Linked DNA regions of Homo sapiens: region 1 is linked to region 2. The links come from fine-mapping of genetic effects on gene expression. A gene starts in region 2. The other region holds a variant in brackets. All regions are shown on one strand. Distances are between the middles of the regions.

The links. PIP is the estimated chance that this variant, and not a neighbour inherited with it, causes the effect. A credible set is the group of variants that fine-mapping cannot tell apart.
Region 1: its variant is the best candidate, but not a certain one, in a credible set for the expression of KCNH8 in testis (GTEx, PIP 0.85).

The regions. Positions count from the first base shown.
Region 1 is chr3:19,098,662-19,114,066 of GRCh38, forward strand. No RefSeq gene overlaps it. Among named protein-coding and RNA genes, the nearest start is that of KCNH8, 42 kb to the right of the region's middle. The variant A/G (reference allele first, on the strand shown) is at 7,355.
Region 2 is chr3:19,142,360-19,157,764 of GRCh38, forward strand. It overlaps KCNH8 (potassium voltage-gated channel subfamily H member 8), which reads left to right and starts at 6,151. Exons shown (of 16, transcript NM_144633.3): 1 at 6,151-6,436. The coding sequence starts at 6,361. RefSeq lists enhancers at 4,406-4,999, 5,000-5,593 and a silencer at 4,541-4,712.

The DNA of each region.
Region 1 (15,405 bases), 44 kb before region 2:
GGGCTCTGTTCCATTCCATTGATCTATATCTCTGTTTCGGTACCAGTACCATGCTGTTTTGGTTACTGTAGCCTTGTAGTATAGTTTGAAGTCAGATAGTGTGATGCCTCCAGGTTTGTTCTTTTGGCTGAGGATTGACTTGGCGATGCGGGCTCTTTTTTGGTTCCATATGAACTTTAAAGTAGTTTTTTCCAATTCTGTGAAGAAAGTCATTGGTAGCTTGATGGGGATGGCATTGAATCTGTAAATTACCTTGGGCAGTATGGCCATTTTCACGATATTGATTCTTCCTACCCATGAGCATGGAATGTTCTTCCATTTGTTTGTATCCTCTTTTATTTCCTTGAGCAGTGCTTTGTAGTTCTCCTTGAAGAGGTCCTTCACATTCCTTGTAAGTTGGATTCCTAGGTATTTTATTCTCTTTGAAGAAATTGTGAATGGGAGTTCACTCAAGATTTGGCTCTCTGTTTGTCTGTTATTGGTGTATAAGAATGCTTGTGATTTTTGTACATTGATTTTGTATCCTGAGACTTTGCTGAAGTTGCTTATCAGCTTAAGGAGATTTTGGGCTGAGACAATGGGGTTTTCTAGATATACAATCATGTCATGTAAAAACAGGGACAATTTGACTTCCTCTTTTCCTAATTGAATACCCTGTATTTCCTTCTCCTGCCTAATTGCCCTGGCCTGAACTTCCAACACTATGTTGAATAGGAGTGGTGAGAGAGGGCATCCCTGTCTTGTGCCAGTTTTCAAAGGGAATGCTTCCAGTTTTTGCCCATTCAGTATGATATTGGCTGTGGGTTTGTCATAGATAGCTCTTATTATTTTGAAATACGTCCCATCAATACCTAATTTATTGAGAGTTTTTAGCATGAAGGGTTGTTGAATTTTGTCAAAGGCTTTTTCTGCATCTATTGAGATAATCATGTGGTTTTTGTCTTTGGTTCTGTTTATATGCTGGATTACATTTATTGATTTGCGTATATTGAACCAGCCTTGCATCCCAGGGATGAAGCCCACTTGATCATGGTGGATAAGCTTTTTGATGTGCTGCTGGATTCGTTTTGCCAGTATTTTATTGAGGATTTTTGCATCAACGTTCATCAAGGATATTGGTCTAAAAATCTCTTTTTTGGTTGTGTCTCTGCCCGGCTTTGGTATCAGAATGATGCTGGCCTCATAAAATGAGTTAGGGAGGATTCCCTCTTTTTCTATTGATTGGAATAGTTTCAGAAGGAATGGTACCAGTTCCTCCTTTTACCTCTGATAGAATTCGGCTGTGAATCCATCTGGTCCTGGACTCTTTTTGGTTGGTAAACTATTGATTATTGCCACAATTTCAGATCCTGTTATTGGTCTATTCAGAGATTCAACTTCTTCCTGGTTTAGTGTTGGGAGAGTGTATGTGTCGAGGAATTTATCCATTTTTTCTAGATTTTCCAGTTTATTTGCGTAGAGGTGTTTGTAGTATTCCCTGATGGTAGTTTGTATTTCTGTGGGATCGGTGGTGATATCCCCTTTATCATTTTTTATTACGTCTATTTGATTCTTCTCTCTTTTTTTCTTTATTAGTCTTGCTAGCGGTCTATCAATTTTGTTGATCCTTTCAAAAAACCAGCTCCTGTATTCATTTTTTTGAAGGGTTTTTTGTGTCTCTATTTCCTTCAGTTCTGCTCTGATTTTAGTTATTTCTTGCCTTCTGCTAGCTTTTGAATGTGTTTGCTCTTGCTTTTCTAGTTCTTTTAATTGTGTTGTTAGGGTGTCAATTTTGGATCTTTCCTGCTTTCTCTTGTGGGCATTTAGTGCTATAAATTTCCCTCTACAAACTGCTTTGAATGTGTCCCAGAGATTTTGGTATGTTGTGTCTTTGTTCTCGTTGGTTTCAAAGAACATCTTTATTTCTGCCTTCATTTCGTTATGTATCCAGTAGTCATTCAGGAGCAGGTTGTTCAGTTTCCATGTAGTTGAGCGGTTTTGAGTGAGATTCCTAATCCTGAGTTCTAGTTTGATTGCACTATGGTCTGAGAGATAGTTTGTTATAATCTCTGTTCTTTTACATTTGCTGAGGAGAGCTTTACTTCCAAGTATGTGGTCAATTTTGGAATAGGTGTGGTGTGGTGCTGAAAAAAATGTATATTCTGTTGATTTGGGGTGGAGAGTTCTGTAGATGTCTATTAGGTCCGCTTGGTGCAGAGCTGAGTTCAATTCCTGGGTATCCTTGTTGACTTTCTGTCTCGTTGATCTGTCTAATGTTGACAGTGGGGTGTTAAAGTCTCCCATTATTAATGTGTGGGAGTCTAAGTCTCTTTGTAGGTCACTCAGGACTTGCTTTATGAATCTGGGTGCTCCTGTATTGGGTGCATATATATTTAGGATAGTTAGCTCTTCTTGTTGAATTGATCCCTTTACCATTATGTAATGGCCTTCTTTGTCTCTTTTGATCTTTGTTGTTTTAAAGTCTGTTTTATCAGAGACTAGGATTGCAACCCCTGCCTTTTTTTGTTTTCCATTTGCTTGGTAGATCTTCCTCCATCCTTTTATTTTGAGCCTATGTGTGTCTCTGCACGTGAGATGGGTTTCCTGAATACAGCACACTGATGGGTCTTGACTCTTTATCCAATTTGCCAATCTGTGTCTTTTAATTGAAGCATTTAGTCCATTTACATTTAAAGTTAATATTGTTATGTGTGAACTTGATCCTGTCATTATGATGTTAGCTGGTGATTTTGCTCGTTAGTTGATGCAGTTTCTTCCTAGTCTCGATGGTCTTTACATTTTGGCATGATTTTGCAGCGGCTGGTACCAGTTGTTCCTTTCCATGTTTAGCGCTTCCTTCAGGAGCTCTTCTAGGGCAGGCCTGGTGGTGACAAAATCTCTCAGCATTTGCTTGTCTGTAAAGTATTTTATTTCTCCTTCACTTATGAAGCTTAGTTTGGCTGGATATGAAATTCTGGGTTGAAAATTCTTTTCTTTAAGAATGTTGAGTATTGGCCCCCACTCTCTTCTGGCTTGTAGGGTTTCTGCCGAGAGATCCACTGTTAGTCTGATGGGCTTCCCTTTGAGGGTAACCTGACCTTTCTCTCTGGCTGCCCTTAACATTGTTTCCTTCATTTCAACTTTGGTGAATCTGACAATTATGTGTCTTGGAGTTGCTCTTCTCGAGGAGTATCTTTGTGGTGTTCTCTGTATTTCCTGAATCTGAACATTGGCCTGCCTTGCTAGATTGGGGAAGTTCTCCTGGATAATATCCTGCAGAGTGTTTTCCAACTTGGTTCCATTCTCCCCATCACTTTCAGGTACACCAATCAGATGTAGATTTGGTCTTTTCACATAGTCCCATATTTCTTGGAGGCTTTGCTCATTTCTTTTTATTCATTTTTCTCTAAACTTCCCTTCTCTCTTCATTTCATTCATTTCATCTTCCATTGCTGATACCCTTTCTTCCAGTTGATCGCATTGGCTCCTGAGGCTTCTGCATTCTTCACGTAGTTCTCGAGCCTTGGTTTTCAGCTCCATCACCTCCTTTAAGCATTTCTCTGTATTGGTTATTCTAGTTATACATTCTTCTAAATTTTTTTCAAAGTTTTCAATTTCTTTGCCTTTGGTTTGAATGTCCTCCCATAGCTCAGAGTAATTTGATCGTCTGAAGCCTTCTTCTCTCAGCTCGTCGAAGTCATTCTCCATCCAGCTTTCTTCCGTTGCTGGTGAGGAACTGCGTTCCTTTGGAGGAGGAGAGGCGCTCTGCTTTTTAGAGTTTCCAGTTTTTCTGTTCTGTTTTTTCCCCATCTTTGTGGTTTTATCTACTTTTGGTCGTTGCTGATGGTGATGTACAGATGGGTTTTTGGTGTGGATGTCCTTTCTGTTTGTTAGTTTTCCTTCTAACAGACAGGACCCTCAGCTGCAGGTCTGTTGGAATACCCTGCCGTCTGAGGTGTCAGTGTGCCTCTGCTGGGGGGTGCCTCCCAGTTAGGCTGCTCGGGGGTCAGGGGTCAGGGACCCACTTGAGGAGGCAGTCTGCCGGTTCTCAGATCTCCAGCTGTGTGCTGGGAGAACCACTGCTCTCTTCAAAGCTGTCAGACAGGGACATTTAAGTCTGCAGAGGTTACTGCTTTTTGTCTGTGCCCTGCCCCCAGAGGTGGAGCCTACAGAGGCAGGCAGGCGTCCTTGAACTGTGGTGGGCTCCACCCAGTTCGAGCTTCCTGGCTGCTTTGTTTACCTAATCAAGCCTGGGCAATGGCGGGCGCCCCTCCCCCAGCCTCGCTGCCGCCTTGCAGTTTGATCTCAGACTGCTGTGCTAGCAATCAGCGAGACTCCGTGGGCGTAGGACCCTCCGAGCCAGGTGCGGGGTATAATCTCGTGGTGTGCCGTTTTTAAGCCGGTCCTAAAAGCGCAATATTCGGGTGGGAGTGACCCGATTTTCCAGGTACGTCCGTCACCCCTTTCTTTGACTCGGAAAGGGAACTCCCTGATCCCTTGCGCTTCCCAAGTGAGGCAAAGCCTCGCCCTGCTTCAGCTGGCGCACCGTGTGCACACCCACTGACCTGCGCCCACTGTCTGGCACTCCCTAGTGAGATGAACCTGGTACCTCAGATGGAAATGCAGAAATCACCCGTCTTCTGCGTCGCTCACGCTGGGAGCTGTAGACCAGAGCTGTTCCTATTTGGCCATCTTGGCTCCTGCCCCCTCTGTTTGTCTATTATTGGTGTATAGGAATGCTTGTGCTTTTTGCACATTGATTTTGTATCCTGAGATTTTGCTGAAGTTGCTTATCTGCTTAAGGAGATTTTGGACTCAGATGATGGGGTTTTCTAAATATACAATCACATCCTCTGCAGAGAGATAATTTGACTTTCTCTCTTCCTATCGAATACCCTTTATTTCTTTCTTTTGCTTGATTGCCCCAGCCAGAACTTCCAATATTATGTTGAATAGGAGTGGCGAGAGAGGGCATCCTTGTCTTGTGACGGTTTTCAAAGGGTATGCTTCCAGTTTTTGCCCATTCAGTATGATATTGACTTGCACTTCCTGGGTGAGGCAACACCCCACCCTGATTCTGCTCATCCTCTGTGGGCTGCACCCACTGTCTAACCAGTCCCCATGAGATGACTTGGGTACCTCAGCTAGAAATGTGGAAATCACCCACCTCCTGCATTGGTCTCACTGGGAGCTGCAGCTGGAGCTGTTCCTATTTTGGCCATCTTGTCCAGGAGTCTAGGTCCCATTCTTTCTTGTCTGCCACCATGTAATATGTGTCTTTCACCTTCTGCCATGACTGTGAGGACTCCCAGCCATGTGGAACTGTAGGTCCACTAAACTTTGTTTTTTTAATAAATTACCCCGTCTCAGGTATGCCTTTATCAGCAGCATGAAAATGGACTAATACATTCTTTCTTTTGTGGAAACAGCAAAAATTATGCCTGAGGAGGGAAATTCAGGACTGTAATTATAAATACAGCAATAATGTTGTTAAAACTTTATATATCACTCTATATAAGTTGGACAAACTTCTCAAAGTTTTAAATAGATTTACTTATTTGTTTTCAAATTAACCCTATGAGATAGAAATTATTATCCTCATTTTACAACTGAGGAGATTGTTTTTTCTGAAAATTATCCATGCTCTTTTAGTCCAAAGATTTCTTCTACAACAATGAAGAAGGCTCCCATGACTGATGGGCAGGGACCTAAGCCTGTAAACATGGTTCTCCAAGAATCTTAATCAGTTTATTGGAGGACACTTGATTGCCTGTTGTCTGGCTCCTTTTGTGTTTTCTGTAGCCCTTGCCTTAATTAATGTGACAATAATATGCACCTGAATTTAATTCTTTTTTTTCTGTTCCATTGTCCTTCATTCCTGAGCACCCACTTCATTCCTGTATTTCAGAATATTAATAAACTATAAAACAAATTTCCAGATATGTAACAAAAGCAACAGTTCAGACCTGTAGTGAAAAAAAAATGCTAATTTCAATAAATAGTGCTGAGTCAATTGTTTATCCATATGGAGAAAAAATAGTAGATTGATTCATACCTCACACTGTACACAAAAGTTAATTCTAGATGGATTACATATTTAAATATGAAAATAAAACATACAACTTTAAGAGAAAGTATAGAATAACATATTTATGTCTTTGGAATACCCCTGAATTTCTTGAGCAGGATACAAAAAGCTCAATTCATAAAAGAAAAAAATGATAAATCAGATTATATTTAAGAATTTCCTAAATCAAAAGGTGCCATTCTGAAATCAAGAAGCAAGATATTGAGTTAAATAAGACATTTGGAATACATGTATCCCACAAATCATTTCTATCTTGAACTTATTAATACTTCCTATAAATCAGTAAGAAAAACACAGATGAACCAACAGAAAAATGTACAAAAGATTAGAAGAGATACTTTACAAAAGAAGATAACAAAATATCCCACATATATTTGAAAAAATGATCCATAGCATCAATCATAAGTGAAATTCCAATAAAACCATGATTAGATACTGTATATACTCACTTGAATTGCCAAAATGAAAAAGACATTATCAAGTTTTGGTCAGGGTATGAAATGATTAGAACCCTCATACCAGTTTGTAGAAGTGTAAATTAGTATAACCACTTCAGTAATTGTCTCGCAGTATTCATTAATCTTATACTTTATGACCCAGTATTTCCACACTTACTCACACGCCAATAGATGTACACACAAGCTTAACAAAAGATATGTACTAGATTGTTTATAGCAGCAATATTTTTAATATCCTAAGACACAAAACTACAAAATGGTCATCAAAAATTAGATAAATAAGTCATACTCACACAATATAATACTGTATATCATTGAGAATAAACAATTGACAAATAAACACAACCATATGGATGTGTCTCAGAAACATAATATTAAAAGAAAGAAACCCAGAAAAATAGTGTATGTACTGTATGATTCCATAATAAAGTGAACCTATGTGCAAACTATTCTACTTGGTAGAAATCAGGGTAATGATTGCTTGGACATTGGGAGATGGTATCATGAGTGGAAAGGGGGCTTTCTGGAGTGTTGGTACAAAAATGAAATTAGTTTGTGAAAAACCATCAATCTGTATAATTTTGAAATGTTCACTTTTATGTATACATATTAAACTTTGAGTTAAAAAAAAATTCCAGCCCATGATGATCTTATTTCAAAGGTGGGGACTTGCTAACCTGAGACAGAAAAGTAGGATGCTGGAGAGTGAGGTACCAGTTGTGGGATCCTGAGGGAAGTGGAGCAATGTGTCAAGCAGATTTACTGTGAAGCAAATGAAACTTCAACTTCAGGGCCTCAATCCCAGGAGTTCCTTCTAAGGCCCTCGGCA[A/G]GGGGTTGCGCAATATGTTGTGTTAAATTTTTCCAAACCGTCAGCTTTTCACTTCCATTTACGTTACTACCTCTTCATTATAGTAAAAATGTGTGTGCCTGAGAAACACCTTTATACCTTCTCTTAAGTTATTCACCCAGTCCTGGACCCCTTGAGTCACTGACTGACTTGGTAATTGTTTGGGGCAAAGTGTTATGGGATCTTTGAGGTGTTGCTTTTCTGGACAGAAACCTCTGTGGCCAGTGATGCCTTTGCCCAAGTTTTGCTTGGGCCTGCTGGGCTCATTCTGCTCACTCAGCCTGGCAGGCTGCACTTGGCTCACACTACCAGCCTGCCAAGGGCAAGTCAGGCATGGAGCAGCAAGAGGTGTGTGACCAAGCATGAGGTCTGGCCACTGCACACAATTGGACATTCTGGCTGCTGCCACAGAATGGGTAGCTCCAGGTGATGGCATAGACACTGGCTCTCTGCAAGACTGAGGCTGGAGCAGGCACACTGCAAGCAGCTTCCCTGGCTGGCACTGGGGAATTCAGTGGCACCGAGAAGCTTGGAGATGCCAGGAACCACAAGTCTCCAAAGAGGGAGTCACAGCACCAGCTCAGGGAGCTTCCAGGTTTGGGATTCCTGAAGGACTGCAACTCTCCTTCTCTTTGTCTGCAACATGGCAAGCAAGGGGCATGTTTCAGCCCTGTTTGTGTTACAGCTCTTTCAGCCTCACCGTTCAGCAAGTCCAAAATTCTTGTCCTGTGACCAGGAAGAATGAGGTACACAGACAAGTGGAGGATGAGCAAGATGAAGAGGAGCTTTATTGAGCAATAGAACAACCCAGAGAAGATCCACAGGCAGTAGCTCCTTTCTGCAGCCAGAGTGTCCTGATGAGTGTTCTGTTCCTAGCAGAGAGAGTAGCTCCTTTCTGCAGGCAGGTCATCCCAACAACTGTTCAGCTATCAGCAGAAAGGGTAGCTTCTCTCTGCAGCTGGTTTTCCTGTCATCTGCAGTTCTCAGGAGAGAGACCGTGGAGTGAGTAGCTCCTGTCTCTGCAGCTGGTCATCCCAACATCTGCAGCTCTCAGCATAGGAGGCCCTGGAGTGGGTAACTCCTCTCTGCAGCTGGTCATCCCAACATCTGCATCACTCAGCAGAGAGGAGGCCCTGGAGTGGGTAGCTCCTCTCTACAGGTGGTCATCCTGATGTCTGCTCAGTTCTGGCTGAGCCCAGGACTTTTATGGGCCTCAGAATGGAGGAATTACACACCAATTCGTCCATGGGTGGCCATGGGTGGGCCGGAAAAGGCAGCACAAGTTCCCACTCCAGTTTGTGGAACTGGAAGCCCAGCCCCCAACCTTCAGGCCTTCCCTGGCCTGAAGGTGGGGCCACACCAGGGACTGCCCCCTTCTGCCCAGGAACCTGTGTCCGGCTGCCATTCATGGCACCAAGGCTGTAGGTGCCAAGAGGTGCCTGCAGGCCCGTGCCAAGCTGCCCTCAGTGCCACCTCAGCTTCCCTCCTATGCTTATTGGTGCCCAAAGTCCAGAGGGGGTTGAGGCAGCAGAGGGCTGGTATGTCAGTGCTACTCTGAGTGTGTGCACACCTGGTGGGCTGTGACAGTGCCCAGCTTGGCCCCAATTTTGCTCCAAGATCAGAGCATATGCTGAGAGCAGGGAGAAGACAGGCAGTGGGAGTATGCATTTCTGAGCCTGTGAGGGCAGTGGGGGCCTTCCTAGGTCCTCAAGAGTGCAGAGATGCCTGGGTCTGCAGCCATGGGTTGGGCAACTGCACCCACGCCTAGGGGGCAGGACTTCTGCCTGCTCCTTGGAGCAGGAGGCCTGGCTCTGCAGCAGTTACTTGGGCAGCAGAGTTGTGCCGGGGAGCTCCCACCCCACTGACTCAGAAGAAGCAGGGCTTTCACTAGTCCCTGGCTCCTGCCAGCTCCCTGAGTGTTGGAGTGTGCAACCCTGGCCACGCCTCCCTGCTGCAGCTGGCATGATGGCAGCAGCTGCTCCAGATGGGCCACTGCTGCCATCAATAGGATCCATGTATTTCAGTCTTCCTTGTGGTGCACATGATGCACACACCTTTGAAAAGGTCTCCATAAAGGGAATTGTTAGTTTGCAGGAGTCAAGACTCTTTTCCCCTTATGGTTTAGTTCCTTATTTCCTCTAAAAAGGCCACCACAGCTGGGTGCAGTGGCTCACACCTGTAATCTCAGCACTTTGGGAGGCCAAGGTGGGTGGATCACCTGAGGTCGGGAGTTCAAGACCAGCCTGGCCAACATGGCGAAACCCTGTCTCTACTAAAAATACAAAAAAAAAAAAAAAAAAAAAATTAGCCGGGCATGGTGTCAGGCACCTGTAATCCCAGCTACTCAGGAGGCTGAGGCAGGAGAATCGCTTCAGCCCAGGAGGCAGAGGCTGAGGTGAGCTGAGATTGTGCCACTGCACTCCAGCCTGAGCGACAGAGCAAGACTCCATCTGAAAACACACACACTCACACACACAGTTTTATGAACATGTCAGACTATATGGTAGGCTTAGAAAAAGCTAAAGCAAATTAACTGACATAGAAAGAACTTAAAGCTATGAGCTACATGTTGTATTTCCCATAGTCAATGGGAAAAGCACCCCCAAATTAAAATCCTTTGCAGAGAGTATGTTTGTACATGTGACTTATTTCCCAGTCTTGTTATCTTTGTTCTGGATTTACTTTCTTTTAAGAAAGTAATGTCATCTAACCTCAGGTATGAAAATTTGATCTACCTTTTGGGAAACTCATCTCTTACCCACACAGGTTTTTAGAGTTACCCTAGTCTTCATCCCCGTACCCCTACAGTTCATTTTCTCGTTCTGAGTTACATCTAGAATACTTTCCTGGAGATGCGTGAAGAACAGTTCAGGTTGACTTTGGTATTCAAGATCCCCCGGCAAAATTCAGGTTGGGCATAGCCCCGTCAAATTCTGTCATTTTAAAGGTGGCCCTGCAACTTAAAAAAAAAGTTGCACTTATGCTTCTTTCATTTTTTCAGGTTTTCAGTGGATAACTGATCATAACACTTGCACACACACTGAAAGCATATATCTCCCTAGAACAAAGCTTAACACCCAAATTTTCATAATCAATAAAGTTTATACTCAAAACAAAAATTATTTTCTAACTGTTCCATCATCCAAAAAGCCATTCCAGTCCACCAAAGAGTTTGTATTCACACAGTGGAATAGCACAATTTTTTTTTCTCCATTTCATCTCCTTCCTACTACAGCTTTCAAACTGTCATCTGCCAGGCCTATTGAAGACTAAGAAACTACCAGGTACTAAGTGAGTTGTTGTTCCACTAGATCTATAAGAACCAAGATGAAATCTCCAAAGGATTCCTCCTAAGGGTCTGCTTAACTTTAGACACAATGCCACACATTCTTTCCTTGGTCAGTTTTCCCGAGAATTTGTATTATAGATTGGTGATGATGGGAAAAGGAGTCATTGTCATAGAATTGATACATATTTGATGTTCCCTTAGCCTGGAAAAGTGGATCTCAAAATAAGACACTCGGACTAGCAGAATTAGCATGACCTGGGGAACTCATGGGAACCTATGACAGATCTACTCAATCAGAAACTCTAGGGCGAGACCCAGTGATTTGGGTTAAAATTTGACAACCTCTGGTCTAGGACATCCTCTTCACTTCTTTTCAACTTTCTGCCTGGCAAAAACGGACCCAGATTTCACAGCTCTTTGTGAAGTCTTCTCCAAACCCACAGCCTTTTTCACTAAGCAGAAAAGAATTGCTCTACATCACTCTGTACCCTCTGCTTTTAGAACATTTTGGACATATGTACAACTCTCCATTACAGCACATATCACATTTTCCAAAATGGCAGTCTTTCACTCACTTCCTGCCACATCTGTATCAAGTGACTTGTATCTTATGATGCCAGTTGCAATAACAAAGTGTAATGGAGGAGTCTTATTTTGCTGACAACTTTGACCCCATAAGTGATGGCTATTAAAATGAACCACTGGACAGAGTATGAACAGCATAGTCTTGGAATTTTCATACAAGCCTCTTCCTCCATTCTCACAGCCTCAGGAGCAACAAGAACTAATAAAGTAGTTATTAAGAAAAGAAAGAACTTGATAAGCCAGAGAAGATTAAAAAGCAGATCAGTGGTCAGTATGAAGGCTGAGAAGTTGCCTTCTTGCTGAGTTTAGACTACTTTGCCACTTTTTAATTAAGCAGTCTTTTTGCTCTTGCCAATCAGAAGGCTTCAGACATCAGTGTTTCTCATATATTGGGTTACATATCTTCACCCCTTAAAGGAATCATGTGGTTAGATGGTTATAAACCAGATGTTTGAGGTGTCTGAGATATACCTGCAAACAGATTTACTTTGTCCTGGTGGAAATGGCTCCTTGATTATAGGTTAGATACTTTGGGGTACTGCAGAATTCCCTTCCATCTGAGTATAATTAGAACATCAGTGCTCTAGTGAACTAAACACAATTTTAAAAAGTAAATGCTGAGAATGCAAATTCTTGGAAAATCCTCTTCACTTTCCATTCTCTGTGCTGGTAAACTTTAGTTGGATATTTGGAGCCATATCAGAGATCTGAGCAGATCAACAAAGTAATTCCTATTTTTGTGTTGTATTGGGATCGGCTCCATAAAATGCTTTACATATGCTCAGTCTTTTGTGTGGTAGCCAAGCAGACAGATTTTTCTTGCAAACAGTGTTTTTGAAAATTTGAGCAAATGCTTTTTCTGGCTTTTTTCCTGTTATTTTCAAGAAAATGTGATGCCTTCTATGATTGAAGCCTGTTACTTTGAAGTTTAATGACAATGGAAGAGAGCAAGAAGTCCTCATTGATAATGGACCAGGAAGGAAAGGAACTATATGTATCCCTAAAATATTTATCATTTGTCACATAATTTAGTTTTGATATTATATGCTCCAAACAATAGAAATATTTGTAATTGCCTCTGTTCATTTTTTTCTATATACAGTTTTATTGTTTTGTAATTAGATAATAAAAAGACATATTCCCATTATGCTATTTTAAAATTAATAATAAAAATAATATATGCATATTTTGGATAGTTAGAAAATACAAACATATAATAAAAATCCACAGTCACACATACTACTGTTATTAAGAGAAAATTTATTATTAATATTTTTGTGAAGAGCTTCCCTGTTATTTTATCTATGTGTGTTTAATTTGTTTTTCAAACTTGGGAGCATGATGTACTATGATGTTTTAGTGATACTTTAGTTAATATATCTTGAGCATTTATTTATATCATTATCTTTTAAAATTTTATATAGCAACCTTATTGTTTTCCTGGTTATAAAAGTTTCTTTTATGCTAAAATTAAGTAACCTTAAAGTCATCCAAAAATGATTTAATTAAAAAATTCTCGGATAAATAAGAAGCTCTACCTCAGCACTATCCCAGAGAAAATGCGAAGCAGGTATGTAATTTAAGATTTTCTAATAGCTACATTTTAAAAAGTCAGAAGAAATTTGAAATTAATTTTAATAATATATTCTATTTATCCCAATATATTCCTGTATTGCCATTTTAAGATGTAATCATTACAAAATATTATTAATGAGAGATTTCACATTCTTTTTTTATTTTAAATCTTTGAAATCTAGTGTGCATTGCACACACACAGCACATCTGAATTCTGACTAGCAACATGTCCAGTGATCAATAGCCATATGTGACTAGTGGCTGCCATGTTGGACGGTGTAGCTCTATATTGTCTCACATTTTTTACTTGTCATCAAACAAAGAAAATATTAAAACTAGCACATACAGGTGTATGATTTCCTTTACATGGACCTTCTTTTATAATTTTTTTCATATCACATTATCTCATAAGATTCAAAGAGAAGTTTCACATAAAATTTTCCAGTGATCTAAAGGTGAATAATTCTTAAAGACTCCAGCCCTTAAAGACTCCTGCCACTGCCACTCTCATCTCCACCCCCAGCAGTCCAGAGTTGTAGGACTTGGGTACTGAACTGCCTGCTTCAGCCACTTTGTGCCCTTGTTATAAAGCAATTCCTGGATCTCCATGCCTCATGATTTCTTTGAGGTCATGTTTCTAGACTCTAATTTTTATCATTACATTCATTTATCTCCTTATTACATTGGGCAATTCTACAGACTGTTGTCTTGGGCAGCAGTGTTCAAACTGGGGTCTGGGGATCACTGAGTTTCCAACTTTTTAAAGATAAAGTGCTATGGAGGACATGGAATGGAAATTCGAGATCAAGGAAGAAAAAAGAAATATGTAAAGATTTCCAACTGTTAAAGAAAACTTTTTATGTATGCTTTAAGGACAATAGTGGGGATCAAATAGCTTTTATAGTTGTATTGGATTTGTTACATACAAAAGACTTCGAAATTTATTATTTTAGAAATCACATTCTTTGTAATTATTTAAATATATATATAATTTATTTATATATAAAGTTAAAATGTGCAATGTGACAGTTTTTAAAAAAAACCAGACAGTATGCAAACAAAAGCTTTGAATACCTCTTAAAATTAGCCCAGTTCACTTACATCTGGTCCTGAAAAGAACCCCTCTGGCAAGATTCTTAAACTTTCTGCGTTTCTATAATATGGAATAATAATGTTATTTACCTCACAGTGTTGTAAGGTTAAAATGAGATAACTTATGTAAAAGCCTTTTGTAAATTATGATATATTGGAGAGATGTTTGTTATTCATAATTTCTTTTCTTCCATGAATTCCTTACTTTTTTTTTTTTTTTTTTTTTTTTAATAGAGTCTCTCTCTGTTGCCCAGGCCGGAATGCAATGGCACAATCTCGGCTCACTGCAACCTCTGCCTCCAGGGCTCAAGTGATTCTCCAGCCTCAGACTCCTTAGTAGCTGGGATCACAGGTACGCGCCACTGTGCCCAGCTAATTTTTGTATTTTTAGTAGAGACAGGGTTTCACCATGTTGCTCAGGCTGGTCTTGAACTGCTGACCTCAGGTGATCCACCTGCTTCAGCCTCCCAAAGTGCTGGGATTACAGGCGTGAGCCACCGTGCCTGGCCCCATGAATTCCTTTAATAAAAATATTTCTTGGGCATCTACTTTGTGACAGAGGCTTTTTTAGGGTTTGTAGATACAGTGATGACATAAAAAGGGAAAGTCCATGTTTTCATAAATCTTACATTTTAGTAGGACTGGCAATTACACAAGTAAACAAATGAACAAAGCAAGACACTTGCAGGTGATGATAGATGTTAGGAAGGAAATAATACCAGGTATTTCAACTGTTGCTGAATTTCCAATTTATAGTTTTTTGAAAGAAAAGAGCACTGCCGTCATTATATGGAACATCTCTTTAACAATGTTCTAGGACTGCCAAGGCCTACAATATTCTACAGGTCCCCACATTCTGACATTATCTCTTCACGTGCTCCTCTATGTCCACTGTGTTCCAGCCACTGTGACCTCTTTCCTGAGGCTTGAACACTCGAAGTATGCTTCCTCCTTAAGATATTTGTATTGTCTCTGTCCTTTCTCAGGATTGTTTTCTTCATATGTGCAGGGATAGCTCCTTCATCCCCTTACCTTCTTTTTCTCACATTTAATCTTCTTAATAAAGACTATTTTGGTTATCCTATTTAAAATTGAAAACTGTCTCCTTTTTCCTCCAACTCCATATTTCCAATCTACTTTGCTCTATTGTTTTTTCCTATTTTCCCCATAGTATTTACCACATTTTAACAAACTATATCATTTACTTATTATTTCTGTCTGCTTCTTCAAGAAGGTAAGCTCCACAGAAGGAGAGGTCCCTAGAACTCTAACTCACTGATGCTGTGCAGTCACTGGCAACATTTGAATTAAATTGGAATATTCCACCTTAGGGTACTAATTGTTTAACTATTGCTATCTCATTTAATCCTAACAACCACATGAGGTATATTCTATTTTTAATGCAATTATTTATTGCTGCATGACAAACCACTCCAAAGATGAGTGGATTAATAAGCAACAATTTATTGTTTCTCACTATTCAGTGGGTCAG
Region 2 (15,405 bases):
GTTAGCGAGTATGAGATAGTCATTTGAAATAAGGGTAACAGCATGTTAAAGAGATGTCCTGAAAGAAGATATCATGTTCTGGGAATTGTACATAATTGAGCAAGTGTCAAACATAAAATCATGGAGGAGTTAGCTTGCTATGTGCATAAAAGATGACGCTGGAGGGCTACGTCGAGGACAGTTATTGAATGGCTTCAACTAATAGGTGATATAATTTTGCTCTGTCCTCAAAGATACAAAGATTTTAAGGAAGGAGTACATGATTAATTTATATTATAGAAAAACACCATGCTGGCTGCAGTATAAAGGAGGAATTCAAGAAGAATGCTTTCTGGCAGGAAGACCAGCTAAGAGAAATAGTTATAGTAAGAAATAATGAGTATATCAGTTAAAAGAGTGACAGTGGAAAATGGAAAAAGGACAGATTCTACAGATTTTATGAAGCTAGAGGTAATAGAAACTAGTGATAGATTATTTATTTTAATGTAAAGAGAGGATAATCAAGACTGGTTCCCAGATTGTATTTTGGGCTAGTGGTGAATCATGGATGAAAAATAGGGAGCAAAGGAAAAGAATGTGCTGGAGTGAAGGCAACAAAGATACATGTGAGATGTTTTTTGTTTATTTTCTATTCAAGATTCATTGTTAGCTGTAGAATTTAGTAAATGGGCTCATGGTTCTTTCTTCTCAGAAAACCTCCCTGATATGCCAGGGTCAATCTGGATCCTCCGTCAAGCAGACACCAAGATAGGAGTTGACACTGAAGAAAGAGCATGTAAAGGATAAAGGTAGGTGGGGGGGCAGGAAGAGTTTTCAGACTGTGATGCAGGGTTGACATCTCGGAAGGAGAGGGAAGGAACAGTGGGTAGGAAGAATGGTGCACTACTGAGAAAGTCTTTGTCAAGCTAATGAGGAATCCTGGCACAGAGATTACCTATTAGGCGAGCCCCACACAGGATAGAAAGGGCTGAACTTTACTATTGGCATCACGTTTGGTCATCGGCTGACATGGACAGTGTGGCAGATTTGAAGATTTGGCAGCTGAAGACTGTCATCAGCAACACTTTTCCCACCAGGTTCTCTTGACATGAGATCCAAACAGTGCACCTCTATTGCTACTAAATGTCAGTTCTTGAATATTCCAGAGTTCCTTTTCTTTGAGGGCAAGGGTTGGATTGTATTTTACCACCTCTTTAAAATTAGGATGGCCATATGACTTATTTTGGTCATTAAGTTGTAAGTGGAAGTTTGAAAAAACAGTATATGCTTTGCCGGATTATCTTTTTCTCTTCAAAGAAAATACCTTTTGAGCAGAACTTCCATCAATCTGGGCCCCAATAATGAGCAGGCTCTTACCAACTCAGGTGGGACATGTAGACTGAGCAAGAAATAGCATTATTGTAATAAGCCATTGAGATATTATGTTTTTTATTGAGGCATAACCTAGATTACTCTGACTGAAACCATAGCTTTGGAGATTGTGCTGGAGTATTTTAGTTTCTACATACACTGAGAAATAGGCAGTGACCATTGGGGAACAGGAGGCAGTGAACACTGGGGAAGAGGAGGCAGTGAACATACCACTGGAATCCAGCTTGGTTGGATATAAGAGCACAACAATTTGAAAGCGTTAGTCAAAGAAATGAACTGCTTGATTTTCCTTCTGAGCTTCTAAAGTCATTTATATTTAGAAGGAAAAGCTCACCAGTCATAGGTTGTAACAAATTATTAATACATAAATGTGTTCTGAGCTAACAGGACCATAAACTGTCATAGTTGGTCAACAATATTTATTGTGGATAAACAACTTGTATTAGATATGTTAGAACATAAAAAAGAGAACAATGATTATTATCATCCCTTTTATTGTATGCCACATATTATGAGATTCAAAGGCTTTCATAAATATTTTCTTCTACTCAGTGGAGTAAGTAGGGAAAGTATTATTATCCCAGTTTTACAGTTAAGGAAATGGAAACCCACAAACTTTAAATGACAAAGGGGATAAGTGGTTGAAACAAAACTAGAACTCAATACATCTGAGTAGATGCCTGTAAATTAAAATATTGCCTTCTTGCGAAGGCTAAAATTCTTGTTGCCAGAAAAAGTTTAAGAATATTTTCAGTGCCTACAGTCAAATACATATGCATCAATAAGGCATTTGCAGCTATTTTGTGTCATGGTATTGGATGAATGCTATAATTAGAAAACAGACGTGAAGCCGACCTAAAACCATCAAACTAATATAGAGAGCCCTGAAGCTTTTTCCAGTTCCAGTCAGTCTGAAAAGACAACATCAAATGCTAATGAGAGTCAGTCTTAAATAAAATAAGAATAAAAATTGCTTTATCTGTGGCTTATAACTCTTAAGTGAATTTAATGTGTATTTTCTCTCTTGTGTGTTACATTTTCCCTATAAGGAATTATAGAGTTGAACCCAGATCTTGTACCCATAAATCTCAAATGCTTATGGAGACATAAAGAATAGGTAAAAATGGATTTTTAATCACATTAAGGAATGCTGTTATGAGGCAACTTCCTTTGAAACTCAAAATACTAACAAATTGATAGGAAGATTTTAAAACATGGCTCCATTTTATTTGATACTTGTTCCATCTAAAGGTTGGACTTTTCCCCCTTTCTGATTAACCTGGATTCTGTGCTTGCTTTCAATCTGGCCGTTTCTAGATCAGGCCTTAAGAAACTGGCAGTTCCTACTTCCTGTCTCTTCAGACACTCTGGAAACCACCATGCTGTGAGGAAGCCCAAGTAGTTCCTGGAGAGATCTACACCAATAACTGAAGCCCCAAGGCCCTAGCACTGGCTGAGCTCCCAGCTGAAAGCCAGCACCAAATTTCCATAACTTTGAGTGAACCATCTTGGAAGTGTATATTCCAGTTCCAGGTTAAGTGTACTCAGAAATAACCTGCCCCATTGATCCCTGTAAAAATTGGAGATCTGAAAGCAAAATACAATATTGTTGACATTTTAAGTCAGTAGGGTTTGGGGCAGTTTATTGTATCAGTGAACTTTGCCTAGGTTGGTTTTACCTAGAGGCCTTCTATAGTACATAATAGAGTACCTTGGTCTGGTTATAGGGATTTTGTGCCTTCCTTTACATTTTAAAGTGAAAGAAAAATATCTTTTCTGTGAACATGAATTTTTTATTATTATTGTTATACTTTTAAGTTCTAGGGTACATGTGCACAATGTGCAGGTTTGTTACATTGGTATACATGTGCCATGTTTGTTTGCTGCATCCATCAACTCGTCATTTACATTAGGTATTTCTCCTAATGCTATCCCTCCCCCAGCTCCCCAGCCCCCAACAGGCCCGGGTGTGTGATGTTCCCCTCCCTGTGTCCATGTGTTGTCATGAACATCAATATTTTTAATGAGGGCATTAAGTTTACTCTATTGTGTGGTTATCCTGTATTCTTGTAGCATTGTCTCGTTTAGTCCGTAGAGAAAGATCACATCCCTGTAGTGTGTGATCTACTATAAAATGAGTTGGGGTTTTTTGTGTCAATAAAATGAGTTGCAACAAAATGAGTTGGGTTTTTTTGTGTCAATAAGTGGGGACAGTGGGAAAATTTCCTTAAGGAAAGCACATGAGATTTGGTGATTTGGGGCAGATGATAGTGAAAACTCCAGACTCCCATGGTGCTTCTTTCACGGTCTTTGCTTTCCAGGTGGCAAAACATGTTTAAAGGGATTTAATATACTTAAACTTGGATGGAGGTCATGTTCTAATGGCACAATTTGGCCTCACTGATGCCACAAACCCTTAGGATGAACATTAGGTTTCGGGCTAGAACTTAAAAAGGGCCTGGAACTCAAGACCAGAGTGGTGATGGCTGTCTTCATTAAGAAACACTTCTTGGTGGGCAAAGGATATAAGAGATAGTTAGGTCCATCTACTGCAGTTCAGTAGAATACAGGGCTTGAATTTGAATTTAGGGCAGGGATCTTGCCATGCCTAGCACAGTTCCTGACACATAATAGGTGTTGGAGGGGAGACAGTGAATGATAAATGCCAGGCTCCTTTTGCCATGAAACTGGGGCTTTCTTTTGGGTTGTCATTTTTAAGCCACTATGTGGCTTGCTTCTTGCAGTGATTTCATATATTAGGTAACAGATCAGGACCACGAGGAAACAATTTTTACACACACGGCCCTACAGTGCAAATTGTTATGAACCACAGTCATAGCTTACAACTAATACATTTCATCCTGAACTTCGAGCCAATTCACGGGTGGCGTTTATCTCCGTTTTACATCGGCAGCAACAGCCTGAATTTTCTGGGACACGATGCGCCACCCAAACAACAGGGACTCCCTCATCTTTTTCTCCCCAGCTCCGCCCAAGACTGAGCCACATAGCCACCTGCAGTTGCGATCGGCTCGCCGCGTGGGGGACTCCACCCGCGTGAGCTCGGTTTCCGAAAAGCGAAGCTGGGGTGGGACACAAGGATTGAGGGGAGGACAGGGACGGACCTGCGGCAGAAGCAGGGTGCAGCTGGGCGAGGAACCCCACGTTGGTAGCTTCTCTTCTGGGATGGCCGCCCCGCGCCGCCCACTCCGGAATCCTGTCCCCTCCCCGGCGCGCCCCCGCCCAGCTAGCCTAGAGCCTCTGCCGGATCTTCTCGAATTTCAACACAAAGGGAATCCTCGGCCGCAGGAAGTGCATCACGAGAAAGGGGGCCTGGGGGCGGGGAGAGGGGGATGCCGCTTCTCTCTCTTCTCCCCCTCCCTCCCGGAGCCCAAGGCAGACGTGACGAAACCCGCGGGGTCCCCCCCGAAGCCCCAACAGCCGAGATAATTGAAACAAGAAACCCCCTTAGTAAGGGGGCGGGGGGTGGGCCCTCCCTCCCTCCTCCCGCCACGCCCGAGTTCCTGGAGATCAGAGCTGCCTCGCCGCGGCTCTGACACCTGTTTGCTTTTTCCCTCCTTTCCTTCCGGGTGCACTAGCACCTGGGCTTACGTTTGTTTTTCTACCCTGGGGCTCTCAACTTCCCTTCCACACTCCACCTCCCTTGCAGAGTTTTCTATAAAGTTCGGGCTCTGGGTGTCCCCTTGCACTCCCCACAGGGCTGTGCCGCAGGCTTGGGCGACTTTCCCCGCAGAACGTTGGCCGAGAGGGAGTCCCCGCGGGGGGGGCCAGGGGGGAGGACTGGGAGAGACCACTTTCGTTTTCTGAGACGCCTTCAGTTCCTGGCCGTCCGCCAGGCTTTCTTCTTGGAGGTGTCAGTCTTCGGGAGTGGGGGCTGGGGAAAGGGGGGCAGGCTAGGGGATTTGTGTTTGAAGCTATTTTTGGAAGGCAGCCTTACTGTTTTTACTTACGTGGTATTTTGCAAATTAATAAAAATAGCAAACTTTTCTAGAAATGCTTTATTCACATTTTACCGGAGAATGGGAAACCATCCATTGTCCGTTCAAAAGGCTATTTTTTTAAAGTTTGGGATGGCTTGGGGAGGCCAATGGCAATTTGGGGAGAAGGGCTGAAGCACCCCTTTTTGGAGCTCGGGGCCAGTTTCCCGGACTAAAAGACCCTGGTGACTGGGGATGGGCCTCACAACTAACTCGGGCTGCCCTGCCCCTGTCGCGTGGGCTCGCAATGGCAAGTGCTCCGGAAGGGGGCCGCCTCCCCGTGGGGCTCCTGGCTGCCTCTGCTCCCTTGGACACCACTGGGGGGCCTCCCCCTCCTAAGTTCTAGGTTGAGGCCGGATACCTGCCCCGACCTGTCTCCTCCCTTTCTCCAATACCACACCCACGGGACTCCAGTCTCCCCGGGAGTGGGACGGAGAGGGAACAAAGGGGTCTTTGTTCACTGGCTCCCGGGGCGTGGGAGTTGCGCTCGCTCTCCTTTCCCGGCGTCCCGTGGAGACCGGGAGGCTCAGCGCCTCTCCCAGCTCTCAGCGCCGCCCTCCCAGACCCCAGAGACGTCGGTCAGGGCGCGGCGCCCCGGGCCACTGCGGGCTCTTTCCGGGCGGGCGACGTGGGGGGCGAGGCACCGCGCGGCGGCGCCTGGCGGGCACTGTTGCCCGCGGAGGGACGGTGGGGGGGTTTCAGCAGCTGGCGGGGGTGGAGGGGGCGGGAGAGGGAGCCTGCGCCGGGCTGAGCCTGGAGGTGCGGGGCGGGCTCGGGGAGCGCTCTTGGGGCTCCTCCTGCCACAGCCGGGGCGGCTGGAACTCTCTCCCTTTCTCCCTCCATCCTTCCACTTCCCCTGCTCGGCCCCGCCGTCAGGCCGGGTCCCCCTTCCCTGCCGTCATCAGGTTCCCCTTCTCCCTTCTTGGCACTTTCCTTTCGAACCATCCTTCTGGACAAACTTTGATGGAGAATTTCACACCACGCTGGAAAAATGCCGGTTATGAAAGGATTACTGGCGCCGCAAAACACCTTCCTGGACACCATCGCCACCCGTTTTGACGGAACACGTAAGTCTTACACTTGAACGAGTGGTATGGCATTTTCTGAGACTGATTTTTCTCGTACACATTACTTTTGCTCCCACCTTCCCTTTTGCACCAGCGGAGTGAATTTTCTTCTGTTCTTGCCAAGGTATCTTTTGTGCGGAGAAATTTGTTCCCTCATGGTTTGGTGTAGTATTAACACTTTGTATTGGTGTAATAGTTGGCTCTCTTGAGTTCTTGGGTTTGTTAAGGACTGAAACGCAGCCTGAGGAAAGACCGACGCCCGTATTCACTGTGGGACCTGCATTTTGGTGTATCTTTAGGGAATTGGTTGTAATTTTCTGAGGTGAAAAGGGGAATATCGGTGTACCTAATCTTTCTAGAGTTTCAAGGCTCCCTAGATCAAAAGGAGAGCTTGGAGTGTTCTTTCTTGGAGCTTCATTCCGTGATATATTTCGGATAGGTATGATTTTCTATCTGAGTTTAAGAAATGCAGGATTGCCAAGTGTAAGCTTTCTGTAGAATTTTAAGTGTTGTGAGTTTGTCAGAACCTTGATTCCTGCTTTTGAGCTAGAATAGCGTATCTTTTAATCCTTAAATGAGCCTAACACTCAAGCAGAGGCTGTTCAGGAAGAAGGACATGAATAAAGACGATTTGATGATAAGAGAAAGTTTTTAGTTTTTTTTTTTTGAGTACGAATATTATTGGACATTTAGCTCATTTAAGCTACAGTAGGAAAAAAAATAGATAGGATGTTGTGTGGTTGCTAGCAGACGGTTCGTTATCATCTGCAAGTTGTTCTCTTTCAGGACCACGGTCAGGTCCCCACTCCTTCTCAGGCTTTTCAAGCTCTCTACTTGACCCTGTGGATCTTCCTAGCTGGCTTTAACCCTGTAATTAGGAGTCTGTACTACCACCCCTAACAAATGCTCTCAGTTGGTTTCACTACGAATATCCTCATCTTCTTTCTAGCTTATCTTGCTTCTGTGCACTGTCTTCCATTTTTCTGTTGAGACTCAGAGAAACTCATTTATCCTAAAGTCCTTCTTAGTGGTTCAAGTGTCATTGCTTTTACTCTGTATATTTCTTGGAGCTGATATGGGAGAGCAATACTAATTTCATTTCCACTCCAGTAGTCTAAATACACAGTCTTATCTTTGGGTGGGAAGCAAGTCTTGGACTTATGCTTCAGGGATAGTTGGAAAAGTTTACATGAGAAAGAAATGAATCACTTTAATTTTGTTCAGTTTTTATTTTTGACATCTAGTCTAATCATGGTAGTTGGTGTGGATATTTGGTCACTTCATAAGTGTTTTTATCTTTACATCTAGCCATTCTTTTCCCTTTTATATTCTAAATGTGTTAGATGTTATGTATGAGGTGTAATGTTATTACGTATGTCTTTTTTAGATAATAATGATAAATATTATAGGAAAACTTCAAGTCCCTGCCATTGCCACTACCACACCACTGAAGCGCCACACAAAATCACCACTGCTGTGTTTTACCATGCATGATGGCGGATACTACTATTTTACTATTCATTACCTGAGGTACTGATCAGTTTAATGTGGATGTTTTTTTTTTTGAAGTTGAACATCCAAAACTAAAAGGCTGTAAACATTGATCCTGAATTTGTCTATTGAAAATGAGGTAATTGGCAAATGGTAATTGTTTATCTCATTGCCATTTAAAGTTGAATGAAGTGTAATGTGTAGTGAATCATCCCAGCACAGCCTTGGGAATTACTGCAGTGATACATTCAGATATCAATTGCTAATGAGAGGGGCTTTAAATCATCAGCGTGGAAATATCTTGGCCTCTGACTCTGACTATAGTGATATGCATGATAAGCAGGAGGGCATGTAGGGAGAGATGGATGTACTTGTGAATAGTTCTTTTTCTATGTTGGCTACACATTAATGTTAATAAGATAGGTTAGATACTTTAAATCCTTATTTTTAAAGAAGACCATCCTGACATACCTGTATTTAGTATAGTAAGAAATCAAAAAGTCTTTTGGAGACCATGCTTGGTCTGTGCTCCACAGCATCTGGGGGATTCCTGGAGGGAACCAGTTTGCATGAAATCTGACAATCAGAGAAGCAAATTTGAAGGTGATAAGTAACATAAGGGTTGACTTTGGCAAGGTTTTGTTTACAACATTTAGTGAACACCTCTCCTCCCAAGAAACCCCCACTCAATGAAAGAGGGTTTTCTTTTCTCATTTTCTTTTCCTTTCTTTTTTTTTTCTTTTTGAATAGCAGGATGACTTGAATAATCTGAAACTTAAAATACCTTAAACAAAATTTTAGCCACAAATTTTGGTATATCTAGAATAATGGGTATACCATTTTTCCAGCTAGCTATTTACTTTATCTTCTTATGCCATTGTTTCTTGTTGATACAGTTTTGTAATTACTATCTCTGAAACTATTTTCCTATGATAATCCTTACTTCTATTGATTTTTATAGCTGTCATTTATTTTCTTTTGCAAGAGAAAACTATTTACAAATTTTAAATTTACAAAATTGCCACCTACTCAAAAACTTTGCTGGAAAGTGAATAATGTTAATTATACTGAATATGTAATATGCTGAGTTGGTATAATTTTTACCTTATTTGTGAAGTATATTTTACGGTCATGCTAGTTTCTTATTTTATTTTGGACAATTTTTATGAAAAAAAAATTAGAGAGCAAACAACAACCCTGGCAAACTGCCTTGCTAATGTACCCAACATGCAGTATTATTATTAGCCTTATTAATTTATTTTATTGGAGAATAATAAAACAATGTAAGACATCATCTGAAAATCCTCCCAGGAAAAATAAATATATGACAACATAAAACTCTATAACATAATCCTACTATTTATCAGTTGAGATATTATCACAGGGCAACATAATGGAAGTTAATAATACATTTTATAACTTAGTGACACTTTATTATTTTACATATTATAATATTTCTTTTTAATATTTAAAAAGTGAGGTCTGTCAGGATTGAAAGACACTTGTGGATTATTAATTGAGGCTATTTTTTTCTGATATGCAATATAATTTGCAACCATTATTGAAAAATAAAAATATTATATAAAATTACCACTAAATATATTTACTCTTGAAATATGTTTTATGGTTTGTATTTAACTGAAGTGTAGTAAGACTTAGAAAAACTAAGAACCTTAGAAATCTTAAATACGTATACCCCACTTAGGGGGAAAAAGAAAAAGTAATTCCAATTAATTTCTTTGAATTATTACACATAGCAAAAACCACTCACTTGTACCACTCTAAGACATACACATACACACATACACCACACACACACTCCTAACGTTATGGCCTGCAACTAGTTCACTTCTCCATAGTTTTTTTTTAAAACATATTTGCTGTAATTTAAGAAAATCTTTTCTGTTTAGACTTTTGCTTTAAGTAACTATTAATTTGGACAAAGGGAAAGTACAATAAGGGAACACATTGGTATATATTTGAAAAAATATATACCAATGTATTTATATTTGAAAAAATAGTATTTTTAGTACAATTGTTTGTCACAGGATACCATTTGAGAAAAACAGCTTTTTAAAAAAGATACAAAGCTTTCAGAGGGAAGTATCCATTTTCAAACATAATGGTGGATTAGCCTACATTTTCTAGGCATATCAAAATTTGGCCAGACTACTTCTTCCCTTTTGGTTTACTAAGACAAAAATTTAAGTTTTAAAGGAAGTTTGTAGCCCAGTGGACTCCATCAAGAAGATTCCAATCAAAGTATTCAAAATAATGGTTGTTTAGAAACTCATTAATATTTGCATATATTTTATGCACTTCTATATAGCCTGTTTGAAATGGTCCAAAGAAATTTGTTAAAATTGATGCTGGGCGCAGTGGCTCACGCCTGTAATCCCAGCACTTTGGGAGGCTGAGGCGGGCAGATCACTTGAGGCCAGCAGTTCGAGACCAGCCTGGCTGACATGGTGAAACCCCATTTCTACTAAAAATACAAAAATTAGCCGGGTGTGGCGGCATGCACCTGTAATCCCAGCTACTTGGGAGGCTGAGGCAGGAGAATCCCTTGAGCCCAGGAGGCAGAGGCTGCAGTGAGCTGAGATCATGCCCCTGCACTCCAGCCTGGGTGACAGAGTGAGACTCTGTCTTAAAAAGAAAAAAAAAAGAAAAAAGAAAAGAAATTTGTTAAAATTGAAATACTTCCTCTACAGAGGAAATTCTCAGTGGTTTTTTCTTTTTATCTTTTTGCTTTCATCAAGGTACATAGACCTCTTAATGTTAGAAGCATAGGGAGAAGGATAATGTACCCATTATCATACTCTTGACTTTGTAGATGAATTCTGTGCCCTCTAAAGGACTTATCACAGGGGTTCTGATAACTTCACTACAATGAAGAAAGTGTTAGAATTACAGGAATTGGATTTATGTCTTTACCAGAAATGATTTTCTTTTGATTAGTGATATATACAAATAATAAGAAAAGTTGTATTGCACAGTCTTAAAAGCTAACATCAGATAATTTTGACATTATTATATAGAGAAAATGGACATGCAATATGCTGAAAATTGAAATTGTGTCCACGATATAGTCTTTCTAGGCTCTAACATTTTTCATTACTGTCAGTTCAAAGGTCGTGGCATGAGACCTCTTCTGGCCAATGAGACTGGCAAAGGACAAAAAGTCTTTACAGAAGCATATTGAGGATCCTGAGTTACTAGTTTCTGAGATATCCTAGACTCAACATACTTCTGGAAGAGGCACAGTCTTTCTAAAGAAATGTGTACTTTATTCATTCACTCAATCATTTTTCTTTTTCTTTTTCTTTTCTTTTCTTTTCTTTCTTTTTTCTTTTTTTTTTTTTTTTTAGACGAGTCTCACTCTGTCGCACAGGCTGGAGTGCAGTGGTGCGATCTTGGCTCACTGAAACCTCCGCCTCCCGGGTTCAAGCAATTCTCTGCCTCAGCCTCCCAAGTGGCTGGGATTACAGATGCCTGCCACTACGCCTGGCTAATTTTTTTGCATTTTTAGTAGAGACGGGGTTTCACCATCTTGGCCAGGCTGGTCTTGAACTCATGACCTCGTGATCCACCCACCGCGCCCTCCCAAAGTGCTGGGATTACAGGCGTGAGCCACTGCACCTGGCCCAATCATTTTTCTAATAATATTCAATGAATACCAACTTTACACAAAGCCATCATGCTAGGATATTTGGAATAAATCAGGATTATCTTTTTCTCAAATGGGGCAATGTAACATGCACAAATTACTATAATATAGATTAGAAAAAGATAAGTGTAATTCAGAAGGTGCAGACAAAGGGCTATGCACATTTGGGTGAGGGAGGAATAGTTTCTATGCAGGAATGATCTGAGAGGGCTTCATATAATAAATAACTTTGGGTGGGAATGATTGTATCATATATGATAGGTGCAAAAACAATATTCTATTTAATTTGCCATTTTGTACAGTACTTGTCATTGAGGCTGGAAAGAGCCTTTAGTGAGAATAAGAGGCATTTTAAAGGGTGTTAAGGGGTCAATGTAGAAGTAAGAGGGCAATGGAAAGTAGGTTAGACCAGCCATAAAAGATCTTTAAACCCACAGTTTTTGGTTATAATAAGCCATTGGAAGTGATAGATCCATATTTTGGTAAAAAACTATGGTGCCATCTATGTCTAGTTAAAAAACTTCCAAAATGCTCAACCTTCCCATGTTCTACAGTCTAAAGCACACTACAGTAGATGCCAACTTTAGACTTGGGATGTTTCTTTTTACTATCTCTTCTAATAATGCTTTTTAAAATAAAGGTTCCATAGAATGCAGTGAAGTTGATGTGTTCATTTTCTTAGGAATGTTTCTTTCTCCCAGGGAGTTAACTTTCTCTTAAGGAAGTGATAGATTTATTTCTCACCACACAGCTGACTACTCTTCTCCTCCAGGGCGGTTTACCCCTGTATTATTCTAGAGTTATGTCCTTGGTCAAGAAAAAGAATTGAGGGTTTGCTGGAATTCAGTGCCAGTGAACTTGATTGGAGAAATCCCAACAGTAAAAGGTAAAGAGTTGGAACTGCTGCAAAGATAGTATGCTTCGCCCTGGCAGTATATATTTGCTGATCTCATCTAAATGCTGTGTTTAAAATCCAAAATACAAACATCAAAGATGAGACTTCAACTTCACCTATGACCTAGTTCATATTTGGCAACTGGAGCAATTGAAGAGCTTTCTCAGTAATTTAAACAGGCAAATATAGTTATTGGATTATAAATTCCCTGGAAGATATGTTTTGCTTTCCTTTATAGTTGTTAATACAACCATCTTTGTCACATAAACTCTTCAAATGCCACATGTCCCCAAATGAACTAATAATCTTTTCTAGCCTTTGAAACCTATTTGTTTTCTTACATGTTCCAGCCTCATTATTGGCATCACGACCCATCCAGTTCTTCAAGCTGCAAATCTGAGTTGGCCTTGACTGCCTACACATCTAATTAATTATCAAATTTTTAATATTTTACTGCAGAAATGCCCTAATTTGGTACCTCAATTCCCTCTTTATTGCTTCTGTTTTAATTCTGATCATCTTTTTCTTATCTCTACAATTGCAGCCTTTCTCTAACTAGACCCCTGTGACCATCAGTCCCTTCTACTCCCACTTGTTCAGTTTCCATTGTTCCCAGAGTGATTTCCATTAAAAACAATATTACCACTTAATCATGTAACACTCCTGCTTAGAGCCATCCGTTGGCTCCCTGCTGCCTTTTGGATAATGTCCAATGTCCTTGGCATCATCTGACCCCAAGATGATTCTGCAGAATCTTTTCCAACCACTGTCTCCCAGGCTACACACATACTCATTCTAAATTCCCTGCTCTTTCATGGTTTTGGGACTCTGCTTTTCACTTGAAGAGCAAGATGCTTTTTGTTCAAGATCCATCCTAAAGATTACATTCTATCAAACTCCTTCTCTGAGGCTCCGAGTAAAGTTACATGACATTTCCCCTATACTTCCACATGGCCTTGCCCATTCCTCTAATCAGCTTTTATATGTGCTATAATTATATGCTTTCATATTTTAACACTCGACCATGAACTCCTTGAAGCCTTAACTATGTCATTACTCCCATTGCTTAGACTTATAGTTGAAATGGTCTTTGCTCAGTAAATATTTCTTTGAGTAAAAGAATTTCAACTTCTTTGAAGGCCAGGGCTGAGTATTAATTATATTTATCTCCCTTTAGTGGTACCTGGTGTTCCTTTTATTCACTATTGCATGATTACCTTTAGTTTTGAGAGAGAATACTGGACTGCCTTCCAGCCTCTTATTTTCACGTGGTTCAAGCACAAATTTCTTTTACAAACTCTAGTGATAATAGTGTCTATCATCTTGGGCATGTCTACATGCATGCTGTGTACTGTGCTGGTGCTTTTTCTGTTCCTATCACAACCCAATAACCCAGCAAGGTGGAAGGCAGCACCCACTTTTTGAGTCAAAGATGACAAAATTCAAGCCCAGAATTCTACTATATCATATTAGCCTGTGATTTTTCTACTATATCATACTGCCTCTAAAATGTGCTTGTATAGCAAGTGTAAACAGACTAGGGTGGTTTGTGGTATCGTTTCTAGTTTCTAGCTCTTGCAAATGAGATATTTCTTTAAAGATTTTAGCCATTTCTAGTTTATATGCTGTTTGTTCCCCTTTGGATATATTATGCTTTAAATACTTGTCATTTAAGTGATGTTTTAAAATAGGTATTAAAGATTCATAACTGGAACTACTAAATGCATTCACTGTGCAAAGCAGTTTAGCTCATCAAAGAAAATCTAGTGTCCATTTTTTTTAAAAAGGAAATCCATTTTCTTTGAGATTTTTCTGTTTAGAATTTGCTGACTGTAGTACTCTCTAGTGATTTCCTTTTGTTGTGAGGTTAATCTGTCTGTGAAGATATTCTAATTCTCATAGCTATTATAGTGATATCATTTTGGATATTTACCTTGTTAGGGTCATATAGAGGAAATTCTTCCATGTATTTTGAGTCTGCTTTTATTGGGAGGAATATATTTTCCAGTGTCAGGTACTGTTGACATCTTTTAACAGAAATAGTTTACCTTTTCTCCACAATGAACTTGCAGGAAGAAGTAAGGGTAGTTAGCCCTCCAACTCTCAAGTCTATAAAGCTTTTTTTTTTTTTTTTAAAAAAAAGGTTTTCTTTTGTTCTATTAAGTATTTTGGACAGACATCTTTATTGTATTTGTCAGTCCAAATGAATCTTTTATTCCAGTTATTGAACTAAAGGGAACAGAGACCAGAGCACTTACCAGTCTTACCATGTTTTATTTGATTTTCTGGAAAAAAGGATCCACATAAGAAGTTCAGATTTTATTGAAATGCCAAATATCCAGTTTGACAAGAAGTAGATGGCTCTTACCTGTGGTGTTCTGGCTATTCCTTCAATGGAGAGAATAAAGTAGAAGGTAAAATTGGGCAAGGTTTTTACCTTAACATCTGGATAAATGTTTTGCTGTGATTTGATGAGTTATGGAAAAGAATGAGGGTATTGGGCCTGGGGCAATGAGAAGGAGCTTTTGTGTTGTATTAATTTGGTACAGTTTTGGTTAGGCTACATCTCAGTCATCTGAAAATGAGCCTGTCCTTCTCTCTCAACAAATGTGTAATTTTAGGTTTTAGGATACATCATTAATAAAAATTTAGGCCTCTTGTTTAGCTGTACAGTACTCATATTATATATTGTATTATTGCTTCTGGCAAGTCAAAAGTTATAAAATTATTTGGTAGATATTAATAATGGCTAATATTTGTATAGCATTTCAGCATTCTTTATGTCATCACTTGAATTGTTTTCAAATTAATGGATGAAAAGTGGTTTCTTGTGATTGTTAATGTCCATTTGTTTACTATAATTGAAGTTCAGAATTTTTTAATATGTTTAAGAGATATTTAAATGCTTTGTTGAGC